2 separate regions of the Homo sapiens genome follow, and region 1 is linked to region 2. Evidence: fine-mapped expression QTL. Tissue or cell type: Th1/17 cells. Region 2 holds a variant in brackets; the other region holds the start of a gene. All regions are shown on one strand. Distances are between the middles of the regions.

Region 1 (9,167 bases), 24 kb before region 2:
AACTGTTCAACTGGAGCCTGCAAACATCCCTGCATAGGTCTGTATGCCTCTCACACCCTCAAGACACACACACACACACACACACACACACACACACACACACACTGCTACAATACACAACTCAAATATCCCGCCTGACCAGCCGCTTATGAGCATGGGGGTGGAAGAGCTCTCAAATCCTCTTCTTCTAAGTCCCTGCAGAAGGCATGCACAAACACAGCCAGGTGCATTTGGGGTTAAGTGGGTGGCAGGTGAGGAAGCAAAGAAGCTTCTTGCTCTACCCCCAGGTGGGCTTGTTTCCCCTCAGTATGCAAGCCCTCCTTCCCCTTGGATTAGCCTGGGCAGATGCCAAGGCTCCTAGGCAGATCCCCGTGCCACTGTCCCAGTGTCAGGAGTAAACCTCAGCCTGCCTTGGGCCTCACTCAAGTCTGAGTGCCCTCCGTGTGGGTCATGACATTGGAGGGAGGAAGGAGGACACTGCTTGCCATCCTTGTTCTGGCACAGAGGAGAGGGAGATGCTAGGGGTCCTTCTTTGGTCCTCCCCCTTTCCAGGCTCCACAGCATTCCCAGGGCTTGAAGGAAAAGTCCAGTTCCTGGGCCCTACACATCCAAGCATTTACTGGGAGGGGCTCCCCAGGAGCCACAGGTTCTTGTGAGCCTTTGAAAGGAGGCCTTGACAGTTCCCCAAACCTGGGTTCCCACTTCGTCAAGGAGCCAGGAAGGAGTTCAGACTGGCAGAAGAGATAGCATCTCCCTGGGCTGGTAAAACCATGCTTACCCTGGATAGGGCCCATTTTCCTTGACAAACAGAGACAGAGGTAGAAAACCCTGAGTGCCCTGGGGATCTGGCTCAGATTTCATTTCTAAGGCTCTGAGATGTTTCCAGGTCAGACTTGGAGTGGGCAGAGGTTTGAGGCATGATGCCAGGAAGCAGATCTCTGCCGCACTTAGGGAACCAGGTCCTCTGCTCCCATGTTCATCACAATTCTTCCTTTCCTCCCCCAGAACTCACCCTTAAAATCTACAGAAAGCGATAGCCCCTCTCTGCAGAGCAATGCATATAAACATGCATTTTTCATGCAATTTCAGGGAACTCACAGATCTTACAACTCTCCACCATGGACCCCACATGCCAAGGATTTCCAAGCCCAAGGCCTGAAGAATAGTAGAGACAGAGGCCCTGGCACCCTCCTCACCTGAAAAGCCGGGGCTCACGGATGTGCTCAGGCTCCAGGGCCACACCCTGCATGTACTCATAGCACAGCCCATTCTGGAAGGTGCAGTAGAGTTTGGGGGCACAGCTGTGTGCTCGCAGCAGCTGGAAGTTTCTGACCTCATTCTCCCGGTCCACCAGCAGCTCCGTCCGCTCCCCATACACCCGGACCAGCACGCAGTCCTGCATGTCCTCCTCCACATAGCAGGCCACCAGCTTGTTGGTGATGCCATCCGTGAAGCGCTAGCATGGGGAGAGGACAGTGCGTGGGTGGGTGGGTGGGGCAGGATCTCTCTGGTCTCTCTCCTGGGCTCTGTAGCTCCAGCAGGAGGTGCTCATTTGAATGCCGAGCACAACCACCCCAAGCCCCCAGTGCTTTAGCCCAGTCACTCATGCTCCTCTCTGTCCCCAACCTTGGGAGTCTCCAGTCTCTATAGAGTTCAAGAAAAAAATGGTAGCTTGGGTTTAGCTCCCACACACTCCTGGGTGTGCCTCTAGTGAATGGGATTTGGCAGTGGAGAAATTTCCACACTACTTGGGAGGTAGACGCCTCCTGCTGCTCCTTACCCTCCACCCCAGTACGGAAAGAAACATCATGGACCAGAATGTGGCAGGGGAGGGCTGGGAGTTGCCCAGAACACTATGTCCTGACCAGCTGCCAATCACCTTGTGCCGGGCAGTGTGCTCTGCTCTACCCCTTGCCCCATCCAGTGGTGGAGGTACAAGGAGGGTACTGAGGTTGGCACCCATCCCAGGACTTTAGTGGCCAGAGGTCCTTACCAGAAAAGACAGGAGACAACTGGGCTGCGAGCAAGGTTCTCTGGACAGCAGGGTGATGAGGAGAAAGGAACCATGGAATTTACGGGGCACAATGTGACAGAGCTGGGAGGGCCCTAGAGGTCATCTGAACCAATTCTACGTAGGGAAACTGAGGCAGGAGAGGGGAGGGACTGGCAGATAGCACGTTAGATCAGTGCTGGAATTAACCTCAGGCCTGCTTGATGCCTTGACAGTCTTATACCAAACTGGGCCTTTTATTTTGAAAACGCTACTCCATCCCCAGGGCGGGTTCTGTCAGCCTCCACACTTGGTTAAGAACCTCCCCACAACTTTGCCCCCACCCCACCCCAGAATGCCTGTCTGCATGGAGCCGCTACCATTCCAGCACAAGCTACAAGCGCCCCACTCGGCACCTTCCTCCACAGGCAGCCCACAGCGGGGCTGGAGGTAGTCAGCTGGGGAGTTAGCCTAAGGCTCAGTGAGTGGCTCTGCCCACAGGTGTGTCCTGGGACCTGTGTCCAGCTGGGGCTGGGGAAGATGGCCTGTGTGGGGGTGCTGAGCCCGAGCCTGCAGCGATGGTGAGGAGCTGAGTGCTAGCTGGAATTCCACAGGGTGGCTCCTGGGACCCACAGGGGCAGCTCAGAGCCTGGAGGATTTGCTCCCACCATGGGGTGGAGAAGGGGCAGCAATGTATGCATGTATGGCTGGGTCGGGGGGGCGGGGGGTCTCTTAAAAGTTCCCGCCTCCTCAGGTTTCAGAGCTGGCTGGGTACGCGCTTCTGGTCAGCGAGGGGCACCAGCACGCAGCGACAGGGGGTGCGGCCCGCACACGCAGCATGCCGACAGTGGGCAGGTGGCCACCAGGCGTGCCTAAGAGCCCCGGGAGGAGGGGGGCGTGTGCAGGGCCAAGGGAGGTGTGAGCCTAGTTTTGGTAGCGACGAAATCAATCCGTACACAAACCACGTTCCAAACCTTTCTTGCGCAGCAGCCGCGCACCCCTGGGACTGACACCCGGAAGGATGCGAGGACTGGGTCCCCGCATCCCCCTGGCAGCCCTGGCAGGACCCCATCCTCGGCCCCGCGCCCACTCCGCTACCTTGGTCCGAACTTGCTCGGGTTTCCAATGCGGCCGCAGCTCCTGGATGAGGCGCAGGGCCCCGGGAAGGATGTCGTCCGGGTCCACGGAAATGCCGAAGTACGCGACGGCGGCGGCCCTCGGGGGGCCCGGCGGCTCCCGGCAGCTGGCGCTGGCCGCCGCCTTCTCCTCCATGCCCCATGAGCACTGCGGGCAAGGCGTGTGCCTCCTCAGGTGAAAGGACGCGCGCGGCTGAGGGGCCGAAGGGGGCACAGCCATTCCCAGCAGCCCCACCCCCTCGGAGCCGCGGCAGACGCTAGCCCCGGCGGGGGGGTCCGGCGAGGGAGTGGGAGTGGTAGAGGAGGGGCCAGGGGAAGTCCATGACTCAGGCGCGAGCTGCCCGCTTCGATCGCCGGCTCGCGGCCCGCCGCCCACCGCCGACCCCGGAGCGCCGCGGCCCGCCGCGATTGTGACATCACGGGCGGTGGCCCGCGGGAACGCCCCCGGCCCGCCCCCGCCCCGGCCCGCGGGCCGCTGGGGAGCTCAGCCAGCCACCGCCGGCAGCTGAGGCCGCCGCTACCTGGAGCGCGGGGTGGGGGCGACGCCCCCCTGGGGGCCGGTGACGCCGGGGGTGGGGCCTCCGCTGGCTCCGCCCCGCCCGGGTCCCCGCCGGGGCTGGCTTCCCGGCCTCCGAGGCCGCGAGACTCCAGCTCTCTCCCGGTAGCCTGGGGTGGAGGCGGGGGAGGGCTCGTCCTGCGCCCCCACCTCATCCTGGAATAGAGAGATCCGCTGCTCCCACGACGTCAGCTTGGGCTCGCCCCTCTGTGCCCCTGCTCCGTGCCCCCAGTCCCCGGACCCCGGGAAATGGCTCTGCAGGGGCGGCCCCTGCTGCATCTCAAAGGTCCTTCCCTGCAGAGAGCCCCCCCCCACACCCAGGCAACCTCCCATCCCCGACAGAAACACACTGCATGAAGAGGGGACATTGGGTGATAGCGTTGGGGTGAGAGTGTGCCAGTCCAGCAGACTGCGCTGTCCCCTGGCAGGCCACTGAACAGCCAGGGCGTTGGAGTGTTTGGGCACATCCTGGGCAGGACTTGGGGCCAGACTGAGTTAAAGCCTCCCTCCCATCCTGAGCGTGTGAATGGAGCCAGGTAGCAGGCCAGCGGTGTACCCGAGCCCAGTGCTTTGCTTGGCATTCGGGGTGTGAAGTGGACAGACCCTCGCGCGTCCTGGGGAGGACAGCCAAATGCCTGGCGCAGCTAAGGGCCAAAGCAAGGCATGGTGATGGCTGGGGGTGGGAAGGAAGGGGAAGGGGTGACAAGGTGTCCCGGGGCAGGTTGCTGTGGGGAGGAGACATGGAGAGAGGCCAGGCCGGCTCAGGGGGCAAGTCCCTCTACTAGCCAGATTCTCCTTTGGTCATTCTCTGCCACCTTCTGAGCAGGGCTCTGTTGGCTGCCAGCCCTATTTGTTGTAGTGAGGCCTCAGGGATCTCACTAGTCACTATCTCTCACTGCCCCACCCAGAAAAGCGCCTTCAGAGAAGGGGCCCTTTCCTATTTTCCCAGTTACCCCTTTGGCCTATCCCGGAACCTCTCAACCGCAAGGCTCCTATGCTTACTGCGGTCCAGAATCCAGCTCTGCCTAGCAGAACTTCTGCAGTGATTGAAATGTTCTATATCTACTGTCCAATGCAGTGACCACTAGCCACGTTGATTTTATTAAAAAAATTTTTTTATTTGAGACAGAATTTCGCTCATGTTGCCCAGGCTGCTGGAGTGCAATGGTGTGATCTCTGCTCACCACAACCTCGGCCTCCTGGGTTCAAGCGATTCTCCTGCTTCAGCCTCCTGAGTAGCTGGGATTACAGGCATGTGCCACCACGCCCAGCTAATTTTGTATTTTTAGTAGAGACGGGGGTTCCTCCATGTTGGTCAGGCTGGTCTTGAACTCCTGACCTCAGGTGATCCACCCTCCTCGGCCTCTCAAAGTGCTGGGATTACAGGCGTGAGCCACCGCGCCCGGTTGATTTTATTCAATTTTAATTAATTTTAATTTTAGTGTAAATAGCCACATGTGCCTACCATATTGGATAGTGAAGGAGATAATGGGGGTCGTGCCTGCCTTCCTAAGGTCCTGGAGCTCCAGGATGGAGCTGGAAAAGACACTGGCCACCAACACTTCCTTTGCAGTGAGGAAGTACAGCTATGCAGGACAAGGGAACATGGAGAATCAGTGGGAGTCCAGGGTCCTGAAGCCCAGGCTCCGGCTCTTGGCGCTACACAGGGACTCTTGCAGATGGCTCCCAGAGGTACTGAGGGCCTGGTTGGGCCATTCAGTGCCTCACGACTTTCTGTCAAAAGAGAGGTGAGCAACTATGGTGAAGAGGGATGGCTTCAGTGGCTCCAGGTGGATGCTAATTTCTCATTCCCCAAGTTACATGTGCCCTGAAGACAGCCCAAGGAGTGAGAGTGGGAGAAGAGACTTCAGCCTGACGAGTCCCAGGTGGATGGGATGGAGGATAGCAGTGTGTGTGTGCACCTGTGTGCTTGTGCACGTGGCCCTGTACCAGCGTGCGTGAAGCACTGTACTTATGACGGTACCAACTGCTTATGATAAGGTGGAAACCCCCAGGACCCAAGTCAGACGGGCTGGGTTCCAGTCTTGATTCTTCACTATCTTTCAGTATTCTTCACTACTTGATTCTTGACCGAGTAATCTTGGGCAAGGCCTTCCATTCTCTGGGCCTCAGTTTCCCCACCTGTAAAGTGGAAGTATTGCCTGGATCTCTGGTGTTCTATGATTTTAGGTGGTAGTGCCTTAGAATGCCTGTGTAAATGGCTACATGGGGCAGGGCGGGGGCATCTGCAGTGGATAAGGACAGCTGAGGGGAGTTTTGCAGGGACAAGAGACAGGGCTGACTAGCTCAGCAGAGCAGAGTCTGAACTCAGAGCTGGCTTCTGTGAGCTGGGAGAACTTTCTGACCCACAGTCTACTGCCACAGCATTAGCCTTGGTCCCTGAGGGACTAGAGGGAGCTTGGTTCCGGCTCTTTTCAGACTTCCCACCTGAGGTTGTGTAAACAGCTCCACCTGAGTCCCGTTGATGGCAGATGGATGGCATCATCCCTGCACGCAAGAACCTGTGCGCTAGGCGAATGTGTAGCTTGTCTGTGTCACATTCCTGTCCACACATGATCACGCAGCCCCTCCCTCTGTTCTAAACCCTAGTGAACCCAGATGCAACAGGCTGTGAACATGAAGTCTTTATTCTCTTTGTCCTCAAAGCAGGGAAGGGCTGGTGCAGGGGTCAGGGCACGCATCCAGCAGGAGCTCCACATCCAATGTCTCCATCTGAGGGCATAAGCCCAGGCAGAGGGGCATCTCAGAGAGTGTTCCAGCTCTGGGCCAGGGCTGAAGGCAGGGCCTGCCTGGGTGGCAGAGGGCCTCAGCGGGCCAAGGCGAAGCCAATGCGGTTGTTACGCCGATCAAACTCTGTGTAGAACTTTCGGATGAAGGTGGCCCCCAGGGCCCAGGTGGGTCCAGTGGGTGGCGGGATATCCATGGCGTGGATGGCCAGTGTGCACAGCTTTTTACTACTGTAGGATTCCTGGCAGGAAGGGGGAGAGTTTCTCCATACCCAGCACATGAGCATTCTCCTTTCACCTTGCCTGACCCCCAGCAACTGTCTTCAGCAACATTCCCCCTCTCGCCCCCATCTCTCCCCTAGCCACACTGGGCCTCCCTCACATCATGGCCATTTTGCCCCATCGTGGACTGCACCACTCCTATGTTTAGCCCCTGTGCTAGATCCCAGGCAAACAATGCATCAGGCACCGTGCTTCCTTCAGGAGCTTACAGTTTGCCTTAGCTTCTGATCCTAGACAAGTTATTCAACTTCTCTAAGCCTATTGATTATGAAAAGAGGGTAAGAATATAGGAGCATAGGATTCTTGGGAGTATTTGATGAGAAAATGGAGATGAGGGAACAGGCATAGTGATGCCCAAACATGGCCACACATTGGAATCACCTGGGGAAACTGAACCCCAGGTGCCACTTCTAGAGGTTCTGATTTAATAGGTATGGGATGTGGCCCAGGTACCAGGATTTTTCAAAGCTCTCCAGGTGACATGCACAGCCAAGTTTGAGAACTACAGTTCTAACATGACCTGTGCATTGTAATCTGTCACTCTTTGAGGGTCTCTGTCCAGCCTTTCTCCCTGCCACCGAGGGGGCCGACTCGAACCTCACCTGAAATACATAGTCCGCGCTGGTGAGCGTGTATTCTTTGCCTCCCAGGTGGAAAGAGATGTCGGGGAGTGTAGGGCCCTCGTTACACTTCACGACATACTGGGGTGGGGGGCAAAGAGAGCCTTCTTGAGTATGGAAGACGTCTCAGCAGACAAGGAGTCCTGCGCTGGTGGCCTGGTCTCTCTGCTGGAGAGGGCTGGGGACAGTGCCCCGCCCCATGGGTGACCAGCCACATGTGTGGAGAGTGTGAGGTGAACAAGCGAAGGCCTGAGATGGCCTCATTTGCCTGGGGGATTTGTGAGCCGATACCAGGTGGCGCTCCCCCCACCCACAGCACCTTCCCTCTTTGGCTTCTTACATCAAACAGCCTCTTCTTGGCTCCCAAGGCCTCCATGAGCTTCTCTATGGAGCTGGTAGAACCTGAGATGTAGGATGCACCGGTGTCTACCAATGCCAGGCAGCCGTCTTCACAGAGCAAGGTGGATGACCCCACAGACACCCTGGGGGAGGCCACAGTCAGACAGACAGACAGACAGACAGACAGAAGGCTGATGGGGCACCTCCAGGCTGCATGTCCTTCCTGAGTGTGGGTGGGTGGGTGGAGGCCACGCTGGTGGCCTGTTGAGGCAGTGAGTAGAGGAGGGAAGGTACTGTCACCCTCCACCACTTCTCCCCAGGCCCCTCCCTTCTCTGTTCCCCAGCCTGGACAGAGCAGGCAGAGAGCAAATGGTGGCTGTGCTTAAGAAGTGGCTGCATTTGGAAAGAGGGCAGGATGGTAATGCAGTCCTTCCCCACCCTCCCCAACCCCAGTGACGGCAGCATTTTTTGGAGCCCGGGGAGGGTTGAGGATTTCTGACCCCTTCATTTGAATCTGCCAGACACCAGTCTTGATGAGGTTGATATAGTGGAAATTCCCTTCGTAATGCTGGGGGTCGCTGCCTCCCAGCACAATCTGTCCTCCCAGCGATTGGGAATTCCTAAAGGAAAGATCAGAAGCTCTTGGAAACCCATAACCTCCAGGACCCAGCAACTCAGGCAATTGGGGAAGGTTGCACAAGGGTGCAGGGGAGGACAGAGGGCTCTAGAGCAGAGGAATGTGGGACAGACAGCCAGGCTCGGAGCTGTCGTTGGGAAGCATGCAGAACATACTGCTTCTCTGCCTTTCTTCCCCTCCCCAAGACCAACCAGAGGTTGTTCCAGGGTAGTCCAGCTGTTCCCCCAAAAAGCATCCCCAGAGAGGTCACAGAAAAGGAGCAGGTACAAGGACAGTGAGTGGATGTGAACAAGACACAAATGGACACCCCTCACTCTTGGGTTGCTGCTGATTGAGCAGGTGCATGGGAGGGGACCCTGGGGAGGCTATTGGGTATGGGGTGGGCAGGTGGCATGGAGAGAGCAGGAAGGAGAGACAGAGAACTTCGGCATCTAGCGGAGGCTGGGCTTGCTGATGTGAGTTTTGGGCCGGTGGCGTGTGTAATTCTAGGTCAGGTGCTCGGGGAGTACTGGAAGGTCACAGCCATGTGGGGGTTTTGTCTCCTTACTCGGAATCTCTGCAGAGAAAGAGAGACAGCAGAAAGGAAGCTTCATTTCATGCCAGCCTCATCAGCCCTGCTGTTTGGCAGGGTGGGTGTTATGTACTCTCTTTGCCCTTCAGGCAATGGAGTCACCAAGAGGCGAAGTCACTTGCCTGAAGTTACCCAGTCCATGAGTGAACAAGTGGGGGACTGGAGCCAGGCTCCTGGTGCCCCGTCTGGAGCTGATTCCCCTCACCTTCCTTTCCTCCTCACTGCACTTGGCTCAGGGACTACTGTAGGCCTAGTCTCCAGGGCATGCCTGTGTGTGTGATGTGTTTTT
Region 2 (10,602 bases):
GATTTATAGGAACATTGTGACCTGACCTAGAAAAAAGAACTTTTACATACTCCTCAGACCCTTGCTGGCACCCAGGTGTCTGCGGTCATCAGTCACCTCTTGATCCCAACCTCTTCCTCTTCCCCCTCCCCTAAATGTAAAAAGTAACCTAAAAGTCATGCTGACTTCAGATGGTTCTTTATGACGCTAGTCCACCATCTTCTTGGTTTTCTGAATAGGGTCGCTTTCTTTGCCCCAACACCTTACCTCTCAGCTTACTTGCTGTTGTGTGGTGAGTGGTGTGTGCTTGGATTTGGTTACATAATCCTCTGGAAGCAGGGAGCTGGGGGAGGAGGGGGTTGTCTATCCTCTGTTGACCTAGTAAGGGTGGGAGAGAAGGGCAGTCTTCAGGGTTTTGGCTTCTGCTAAATAGAGGTAGGGCAGCTGATCTTCCAACTTATTCTCCTCTTTCTGCTTGGCTCTAACTCCCTTTTAGGCCCTGGTTCTCTGCCTCATTTCCTTTTCCCTGTAGCTTTACAAGCAGTCAAGTACAGCTCCCCAGACAGACATCTGGTCCCTAAATCCCAGGATGAGTGCTATTTATTCAGGCTAAGATGCCTATCTTGGCTTTTCCCTGATTATTTTTTAGGGCCCACTTCAAATATTACCCCCTCCTCCATGAAGCAGGCCCTGACTCAGCCTGGAATTGACTGCTTTCTGCTGTAGGCTTCCACAGCATGGCTACAAGCCCTTCTATGACAGCACCAACTTAGCTGCTTTTGCAGCAGAGTTCTTTATGTATGTATGAATATGATTTTTGCCCACAGTGGTGCTTAATATTTATTAAGTGGATGAACTAGTGAACTGCAATGGGCAGTGCAAAGAGCCCTGGGTTGGTGGTCAGGGACTTGGATCCTAGTCTTCATTCTACCATAAATTTGCTATGTGATGTTGGATCCCTCCTTTCTCCTCTTTGGACCTCAGTTTCCAAATCTGTACAGTGAAGCAGATGGCTGGATGGCACCAAGGGTGTCTTCATGCTCTGATACCCTAATATTCTAATATTCTGTGCCTCCAGGGTACTGCCCTCTACACCAGCTCCACACCAGCTGTGGGCAGTACAGACAATGAGAGGAGCTCATCTCTGTGGCTAATGTTTTGGCTAATTAATGTGTTTTGACCTCAGAGATGATAAGGCCCTTTCCAAACGATGGACCCTAGTGGTGATTTTTCAGGAACTGTGGTTGGGAGTGGGGGAATTATTTGGGGACAGGGGAATACTTTTAGATCCTTCATGGTAGGGGTATCTTGTCAGAATAAATGAACATTTATGAAGCACCCCTAAATTGCTCTTTCAGTCCTCTTTCATTTACTAGCAAATATTCATGGAGCCTTTATTATAATGTGAGGCACTCTGCTAGATGCTGGAGTTACAAAGTTCACAAAAATAAACACAGTTTCTGCTCTTGTTTATGGATCCCACCGTCTTGTGGAAGAGATAGATTATTATCATCATGCATAAATATAAAATAGCGCTGATGACTAGTGCCAGTCAGGGAACTCCAGGAAGCTTCCCTCCCACCCAAAATTATACTCGCATTGTGATCTGAAGGCTGCATTGGCAATGAATAGCTGAAGACAAAGAAATAGAGTCCCAGCAGGAACAGAACGTGCGAAGGCCCTGTGGAGAGAGGATGATGTCAATAAAAACAAAAAAAGCCAACATATCAAGAACAGAGAGATGAGAGAGAGCGGGGTGAGACATGTGGCCAGAGGCAGGAGCTGAAAGAGCTAACACTTACTGAATACTTACTATGTGCAAGATACCACTCTAGGTGTTTAATGCACTTAATTCTCACAATAACCATATGAGGTTGTAGCATTATATCACTATTTTACAGATGAGGACATTGAGGCCCAAGAGGATTCAAAAGGTAACTTGCCCAAGGTCCCACTGGCAATAAGGGCCAGAGTCAGACAGTAAGTTTAGGCTGTGTGGCCCAGAACCCAGTACATAGATGCGCTGAGTGTCAAACCATAAAGGTTCTTGCATCCCATGTTAGGAAGTTCTGTGTTTACCCTAAGAGCCATGGGAAGCTGTTGACCCATTAAGAAGTGAATGAATGTAATTAGATGTTTTTGCAGACAGGTGAAGAAGGGACTGATGGGCCAGGTGCAGTGGCTCACGCCTGTAATCCCAGCACTTTGGGAGGCCGAGGGGGGCGAATCACCTGACGTCTGGAGTTCAAGACCAGCCTGGCCAACATGGGGAAACCCCGTCTCTACTAAAAATACAAAAATTAGCTGGGCGTGGTGGCAGGCACCTGTAATCCCAGCTACTCTGAAGGCTGAGGCAGGAGAATCCCTTGAACCCGGGAGGTGGAGGTTGCAGTGAGCCAAGACTGCGCCATTGCACTCCAGCCTGGGGAACAAGAGCGAGACTTTGTCTCAAAAAAGAAAAAAAAACAGAAGGGAATGTTGTAATTAGATGTGTTTTGCATGTGTTTCGGCTGCAGTGTGGACTAGCAAGGAGTGGGGATGGGTCCAGAATAGCATGGCATATACCAGTTAGGAGGTCATGGTGCTAGAACTAGCTTGGTCTAGGGTACTTGGGCATGGTGAAGATGAAAAAGATTGGATGGATTTGAGAGAAATTTAGGAAATAGAATCTGCAGGACTTGGTGACAGATCGGATATAGAGAGTGAGGAAGAGATTGGTTTTTGGAGGCACTCTGGGTACATAGAGTGATGGAAGAGAACGAGGATTTCAGAAGGGGAAGAGGGTTGGAGAGACCATAAGTTTGAGGAACTGTTGAGTATGGATCTCCTTTGAGACATCCCAGGGGTGATATCAAATGGCAGGTGCATAAATAAACCCGGGTGAAAGATTTATGTGTTATTTGCAATTGGTGATTAATGCGACAGGTATGAATGAAATTAGCCAGGGAGAAGGTGAGCAGCAAGAAAGCCCTGGACTCTAAGCTTTAAGGACAAGCAGCAGAGGAGGAATCTGCAGAGGAGACCCCAAAGGAGTGGCCACAGAGGAAGGAGGAGAGCAGCAGGTGTCTCTGAAGTTGCAGGGAGAGACTGTTTAAGGAGAGATGGTGAGGGACAGTAGGTGCTGCTGCAGGGTGAGGTGAGACTTGGGTTAAAATGGAGACATGCGGGCCACTGGTGCTGTCAGTGGGAGCTGTTTTGGTGATTCAGAGGGGTGGGAGTCCACACAGGGATGGGTTGATGAATGATGGGAAGTGCTACGATGTGAATGTTTGTGTCCCCCAAAATTCATAGGTTGAAATTCTAACCCTCAATATAATAGTATTAGGAGGATGAACCTTTGGAGAGGTGATTAAGTCCTGATGGGATTAATGCCCTTATAAAGGGGGCCCAAGGGAGCTCTTTTTTCCCCTTCCACCATGTGAGCCACAGCAAGAAGATGCCACTCATGAACCAGGACAAAGGCCCTCGCCAGACACCAAATCTGCCAATGCATTGATCTTGAACTTCTCAGACTTCAGAACTGTGAGAGATAAGTTTCTGTGGTTTATAAGCTACCCAGTTTATGGTATTTTTTAATAGCAGCCTGAACAGACTAGGATAGAAAGTAAGAAGATGAAGACAACATAGTGTAGGCAGCTATTTTGAAAAGTGGAGGAGTAAAAAAGGGGAAAGAGGGTGACGATAACTGGAGGAGAACGAGGACCAGGTGAGAGGTTTTTCTCTTTCTTCCTCCTCCTTCCCTCCTTCCTTCTCCTCCTCCTCTCCCTGACGAAATGCTTAAAAGGTAGCTTGACTCTTTGTTCGGGGCTCAGTCCTTTAGATGTTAATCCGACTGGGTCGGTGCACCTAAATAATTAAATAATTCCTCCTCAACCCCTCGGTCTCTCTGATTCCTTAATTATCCCGCTGCACTGCCAATCTTTTCTAATGATGGGAGGGAGTTGAGTATATTTAATGCATAGAAAGCACTCAGTTGAGAGGAAGAGTTAATTAACGCAGTAGGATTCCTGGGAGGGAAGGAGTATACAGGGTGGGAAACAGCAGGATGGAGCAGACCCTCCACTGCAGCAGGAGGAAAGAAGGCAAGGCATGTGCAGGTGTTAGTGGTTGATTTGCTTGGCATTGGAAGCTGAGGGACTGCCTGTCTGGTGGCTGTTATCTTCTCTGACAAGTAGGAAGCAAGGACCTCTGCTGAGAGTTGGGGATGGGAGGGGGTTTGGAGGCATGAGAAAAATGGAGAAGCTCTGGAATCATTATGGAAAGTGGGAAGAAGGTGGCCAGGGAAACCAAGAGGATTTCTGTGAGGAATGAAGACATTTAATGGCTGGAGATCATGACTTTAAAGGAAGCCAGTTGGCCTGGTTCTCTGTCTCCCCCTACCAATACCACAGTGTCAGCTCCTTGGATACAGATGGAGAGAAAGTATATAGCTGGCTTCATCCAGGGCTAGGGTGATCAAAGATGAGGGACAAAGGAATTTAAGGTTTTAGCAAAAATGTTATTGGACCGGGAGCAGTGGCTCATGCCTACAATCCCAGCACTTTGGAAGGCCGAGACAGGAGGATTGCTTGAGCCTGGGAGGTTGAGACCAGCCTGGGCAACATAGTGAGACCTCGTCTCTACAAAAAAGTACAAAAATCAACTGGGGTATGGTGGTGCCCACCTGTAGTCCCAGCTACTTGGGAGGCTGAGGTGGAGGATTGCTTGAGCCCAAGAGGTTGAAGCTGCAGTGAGCTGTGATTGTTGCCACTGTGCTGCAGCCTGGGTGATGGAGTGAGACCTTGTCTCAAAACAACAACAACAACAACAACAACGACAAAAACTGTTATTGAATGAAAAACTGTGGAATGTAAGGTGGCTAGAGAAGTCAAGACAGGACAGAATGGATGATCTGGAAGGAAGCAAAGGACCATGGCAATTGAGAAGAGTGAGCAGGGCTGGTGGGAACAGTTGAACCACAAAGCTGGAGGACGAGCTGGCTGAGCATGGGATGCTTGAGATAGTCTGGAGGGGAAGTGGTTATAAGTGATAAGTCCCAAGTAGGACGTGGCTGTGGATAGCTGAAGTAGAGGAGGGGTGAGGTTGTTGGAAATGGGGCCCCAAGGATCTGAGAGGCCAGTATGGCCAGGTCACCATCTGCGTGGTTGGTGATGTCATCAGGAGGTTGCAGAGGGCAAGGGGTGGAGGAAGTCTGTAAATCAGGAGCCAAAGTCTTTGATAAATGACAGGGCGGGAACTGCTAGTCCAGTAATGACAGCAGGGAGTGTGTGGAGGGTCCAAGGCAAAAAAGCAGGGCCTGAAGGGAAGAGGGTCTTCTCCCAGTGTCCACATCAGCCTGGGAGGTGAGTGGATCAGTTTCCCCAACAGGAGGAAGCCAAGACCTAGGAGGTTAAGCAGTGTGTCATGATTTGCAGATGGTAAGTGGCAGAGTGGGGACTTGCATCTCTCCTGCACCATATCCTGTGTTGCTCATGGGTACAGTTGCTGGGCTTGAACCTGGGTGGGTGCCCTGCCCCAGAATCTCACTTCTCTCCACCTCGAGCTCGAGGGCCCCTGCGTTGCTGGAGGAGTGTCCATCATGAATCTCAGGAGAGTGCTTAAGAGTGATGCTGTCTCCTTTCCCACCATGACTGCAACCTGTCATAGCCAGCAAGGGTGACTGACCACCCACCCTTTCTCTCCCTCTGCTCTCAGCAAACCCTAGAGGAAAGGGAGCAAGGAGCAGGGAGAGAACAAGTTGGAGGACTGTCAGAGATGGGGTCAGCCTAGGGGCTGCAGCAGAATGTGAGTAACACCAGCCAACTTTCTTGAGCATCTA[T/C]GATGTGCTATGAGGTGATTTGAACACTACTGGATTTTGTTTTCTAGGCAGCCCTATGAAGTGGTAACTATCATCTGCACTGTTCAGATGAGGCCACTGAGGCTGCAGAGAGCTTAGAGAAGGACAAGCTGAGGGCTTCACTTTGTGACTCCTTCTCTGTGGCTATGGGTGTCAGGAACAACTGGGAGAGCCAATGGGATTCAAAAGAAGAATCTGTAGAGAGTGATCCAACCCCATAGAGCTTTTCTATGTGGAAAGGGGAGCTCTTCTAAGCCCCACGTCTAGTATAGTTTAGACACCCAGTACAGTGCAGCAGAACCCTCACATCTATTTTTGATTAAGTTTCCGGACTCTTCAACAGCAAAGGCAGAGCCAGGAGGTCCAGAGCAGGCAATGTGAAGCCCTGAGCTACCAGTAGATCTAGGTCCCCTGGGGACCCAGCACTCTCCAACCAAACATGTCCTCACTCCCACATCTATCCCCTGCCTCCCACCATGTATGCAGCACCATGACCCCCATGTGGTCCTGAGCCCAGCAGTGCATACAAGTGAGACTATGAAGCATGAATAACCTCACCAGGAGAGAGAAGTGGAACAATGACTCTGCTAACTCACTCTGAGGCTGCAAGCAAGTTGCAGACAAGATCTGCAGAGACCACAGGGCAGGCAAGGAAATCAACTTCTAAGAGGGTAACAGAGTCCAAAATGACAGCCTCTGTCTTATTTCTCCTGGTTTCCACCCCAGCGCACAGCCTGGGAGGGGAACAGTTGGAGGAGAGATCCCGAGATCAGAAAATGGGCAACACAGCTAAGCACGACCATGCATGGTCTGGAGCTGGGACAGGCAAGGGGCCTGAAACCATGTCCTGAAGGTTGGCCAAAGGCCCTGGAGAAGCTTAGCTGGAAGAGAGAAGCCACACATGCGGCCCTGGAAGGAATCAGAACCAGCCCTATTTTCTGTGCCCACAATGCAGATCTGAGGCTCATGAGAAGTGGCGGGATGGGGAGAATCTGTTTGAGTTCCATTCTAAGGAGGAACTGTCCAGCGGTTCACACTGCCCAGCAGGGCAAGTGCCCTCTGAGGCGGTGAACTCCCCTACCTGGGGATAGTCCTGCCCAGGTGCTCAACTGTCAGGGAGCTCCCTGCCATGGACAGGGCCAGGCTGACTCTGTGCCTGTCCAGCTCTGGTGTGTCCTGACTGCCAGGTGGCCTGACCTGTAACTCTCCCATTTCTGCTGCACAGGTGGGGGAAAATACAGAAGGGGAGGTGAAGCTGCCAGGAGAGCCTCTCCTCCCCTCTGAACTTGGGCCTTCCCGAGTCCCAGGCTGGGGATGGAAAAGAGAGAGTATGAGGACCCTTATCAGGTCATCTTTTGACCCCCTTCTGCCCGGGGTCCAGTTCTTCTCACAAAGGCTCGCCAGGATGCTACGCAAAAGCCCTGGGCTGCGTCACCTCTCGCTCAGGGAAGTGGAGTGGGTGGGGGCAGAGGGAAGGGTCATATTGCCCCAGCCCTTTCCCAGCGGGGCAGGGCTGGGACGTGAGAACCAGGCAGGGGAAGCATAAATCCAGTCAGATCCCAGCCCTCTCATCTTACTTCAGATCCCACAACCTCTGGAAATCTCTCAGGACATAAGTGGTGCTCAGGGTTTTTTCTTAAAAACCCCAAATCCCACTCTCCTCCATGATAATGAGCCCAGGGAGATTCAGGTGTTGAGACCAAGGCTGGAGTGGTCAGGGGAGGTCGAGGGTGGAGGGAGGGAAGTCTGGGTAGCATGAAGAGTCTGGTTTGTGCTGCTGCGAAACAGGCATGGATTTATTCTTGGTATCAGCAGTTTAGTAGAAAACTCTTATCATGGCCCCTGCCCAGGGGGTGGTGGTAAAGAGGTAGAACTTGGACTCACTGAGGCTTAGTGCTTGGGAGCTAATCATCTCTTGGCCAGTCCTGCTTCAATTCATTAAAAAGCAAATGGGGCTGGGCATGGTGGCTCATGCCTGTAATCCCAGCTACTCAGGAAGCCAAGGTGGGAGAATTGCATGAAGCCAGGAATTCAAGGCCAGCTTTGGTGACATAGAGAGCCCCTGTGTCTAAAACTATTTTTAAAAAATTATCCAGGCATGGGGGCACACACTTGTAGTCCCAGCTAATTAGGAGGCTGAGGAGGAAGGATAGCTTGAGCCCAAGAGTTCGAGGCTGCAGTGAGCTGTGGCTGGGCCTCTGCGCTCCAGCTGTGTGACACAGCAAGACCTTGTCTCAAAACAAACAAAAGCAAATGAGCAAGCAAGCGGTGAGATCAAATGGCCACGTCTCTCTTCCACCTGTCCTCCTTCCCTCATCATGCTTCACTCCCCATCGCTGGAGAACTCCAGCTGGCTCTGGAGGAATTTACCAATCAGATGGGGCGCTGAACTCTACTAGTAGAGATGAGCAGCTGTGGCCTTGAGAGGAAAGAAAGACCCAGAATGGAGTTTTGTAACCGTCCAGTGCTGCCTTGTGTGGGCAGACTCTCCAGAAGGGATAATTACTCAGAGAGCTCTGGGCAAGGGATGGGCAGGAACGGAAGAACCTTGGGATGGAGGTGGGGTAGGGGTAGGAGTGAGGAGAACCAAGCATCCTTAGTTGTTTGTTCTGGGAACCTTAGAGGAACAGGTATTCAGCCATGGGGTTGGGTGATCCCAACCTGAGGCCTGTTTAACTGGTGACCCAGGAAAATTGAAGGCAGGTTACACAGGTCTTGGGATCTGTAGGGGCCTGGGGCAGGAGGGGATTGGCATGGGGGATGGGGGCTTGGTGGGATAGCCTGATTGAAGGGTGTTCCTAAAATGAGATGCACCCAATGTGGTGGAACCAGACATCAATACCCTGAGGCATGAAAGCTAGAAACATAGAAAAATGCTTTTCCTTAGTGGCACCAGGAGTCTGTTTTGTTATCGAACAAGGTTAAGCTGGAAGGCTCCTTTTCTAGAGGAGGATTTGACAGCACAGCAGTGGAGTGTGTGTGTGCGTGTGTGTGTGTGTGTGGTGTGTAGGGAGTGACAGAGGGGTGGTATAGTGCTAGGGGTTCGTGTGCTGAGTGTCACCAGCAGAAGCATAGCTGGGATGGAGGATGGCTGTTAGGGACAGGGGTTGTACTATTAAAGCAAAATTATCCAGTGCCACTTATTAAAGCACAGTAAGGCAGACTTTACTCAGGACTTTTGAGATAGATACAGGGACCACTGCAACAGGTTCTTGCAGTTGGGGAGAGAAGTTGGGCTCAACTCCAAATACAGCATGGGCAAGTGAAAATGTAAAGCCAAGGAGCATGGTGGGGTCAGTGGATGAAAATTACTAAGAGGAAACATCAGGGGCATGGGGGCATTCTGGCTAAACTCATGTAACAGGATTCCTGCCACAGACAGGCCATGGTGATCAGACATCACCTGTGGCATGGTGCAGGCTGAGGAACCTGGTCAGATATCCAGGGTGATCAGATATTGAGGGTGGGGATTATTTGCTAAATTGACTTAGCAGGGCTCTTTGCTAAAACTGGATTTTACAAGGAAGTGCCCAGATAAACCTAGCAGAAGATTTGAAAGGCATAACTAAAATTTGGACAAGCAAAAATTCTTTGTCAGCACCTCAAGAATACATTTCCCAGAAAACAGACCTCTCTCTTCCTCCCTCCCTGCCTGCCCACCCGCGTCTCCCATCCTTCCTTCCCCCCTTTCTCCTCCTCCCTTCCTCTTTTCTCTTCTCCTTCTTCGTCTTCTTTTTCTTCTTCTTCTTCTTTTTTTTTTTTGAGACAGTCTCGCTCTGTCACCAGGCTGAAGTGCAGTGGTGTGATTTCAGCTCGCTGTAACCTCCACCTCCCGGGTTCAAATGATTCTCCTGCCTCAGCCTCTGGAGTAGCTGGAATTACAGGCACAAGCCACCATGCCCAGCTAATTTTTATTTATTTATTTATTTATTTATTTATTTATTTATTTATTTATTTTTTTTTTTTGAGACGGAGTCTCGCTCTGTCGCCCAGGCTGGAGTGCAGTGGTGCGATCTCGGCTCACTGCAAGCTCCGCCTCCCGGGTTCACGCCATTCTCCTGCCTCAGCCTCCCAAGTAGCTGGGACTACAGGCGCCCGCCACTACGCCCGGCTAATTTTTTGTATTTTTAGTAGAGACGGGGTTTCACCGTTTTAGCCGGGATGGTCTCGATCTCCTGACCTCGTGATCCGCCCGCCTCGGCCTCCCAAAGTGCTGGGATTACAGGCGTGAGCCACCGCGCCCGGCCTAATTTTTATATTTTTTAGTAGAAGCAGAGTTTCACCATGTTGGCCAGGCTGGACTTAATATTTTTTTAATCAGAAAAAAATATGCTGTAGCTTTAAAAATGAATACAACTAAAAGGCTTATAATGAAAACCAGCAATCTCCAATTCCACCCCCACCCCCAGCTCTCAGCCTGGCTCCTCCAAGGTAAGACTGTTAACTCTCTAGACTATTCTGCTATTGTTGGTCATTCATATTCCTAAAGGTGACGCATATACTTTTATTTATTATTATTATTTTTTGAGATGGAGTCTCGCTCTGTCGGAGTGCAGTGGCATGATCTCGGCTCACTGCAACCTCCACCTCCCGGGTTCAAGAGATTCTCCCTGCCTCAGCCTCCAGAGTAGCTGGGATTACAGGCACCCACTACCACACCTGGCTAATTTTCGTATTTTTAGTAGAGACAGGGTTTCACCATGTTGGCCAGGCTGGCCTTGAACTCCTGACCTCAGATGATACACCCACCTCAGCCTCCCAAAGTTCTGGGAATTACAGGCGTGAGC

Direction of the effects. Alleles are on the strand shown, and positions count from the first base shown. SD is a standard deviation of normalised expression in the study named.
For the expression in Th1/17 cells of the gene that starts at base 3,538 in region 1, T is the high allele of the variant in region 2 and C is the other (moderate effect, 0.63 SD a copy in Schmiedel 2018).

The links. PIP is the estimated chance that this variant, and not a neighbour inherited with it, causes the effect.
Region 1: it holds the start of ETNK2, and the variant in region 2 is the best candidate, but not a certain one, in a credible set for the expression of ETNK2 in Th1/17 cells (Schmiedel 2018, PIP 0.69).

The regions. Positions count from the first base shown.
Region 1 is chr1:204,148,507-204,157,673 of GRCh38, forward strand. It overlaps ETNK2 (ethanolamine kinase 2), which reads right to left and starts at 3,538. Exons shown (of 8, transcript NM_018208.4): 1 at 3,089-3,538; 2 at 1,197-1,456. The coding sequence starts at 3,346. REN (renin) reads right to left here. Exons shown (of 10, transcript NM_000537.4): 6 at 8,855-8,863; 7 at 8,171-8,290; 8 at 7,672-7,813; 9 at 7,314-7,412; 10 at 6,313-6,671. The coding sequence ends at 6,510. RefSeq lists an enhancer at 2,617-3,316.
Region 2 is chr1:204,172,261-204,182,862 of GRCh38, forward strand. No RefSeq gene overlaps it. Among named protein-coding and RNA genes, the nearest start is that of REN, 11 kb to the left of the region's middle. RefSeq lists a promoter at 1-6,219 and enhancers at 5,094-5,305, 6,556-7,056. The variant T/C (reference allele first, on the strand shown) is at 5,798.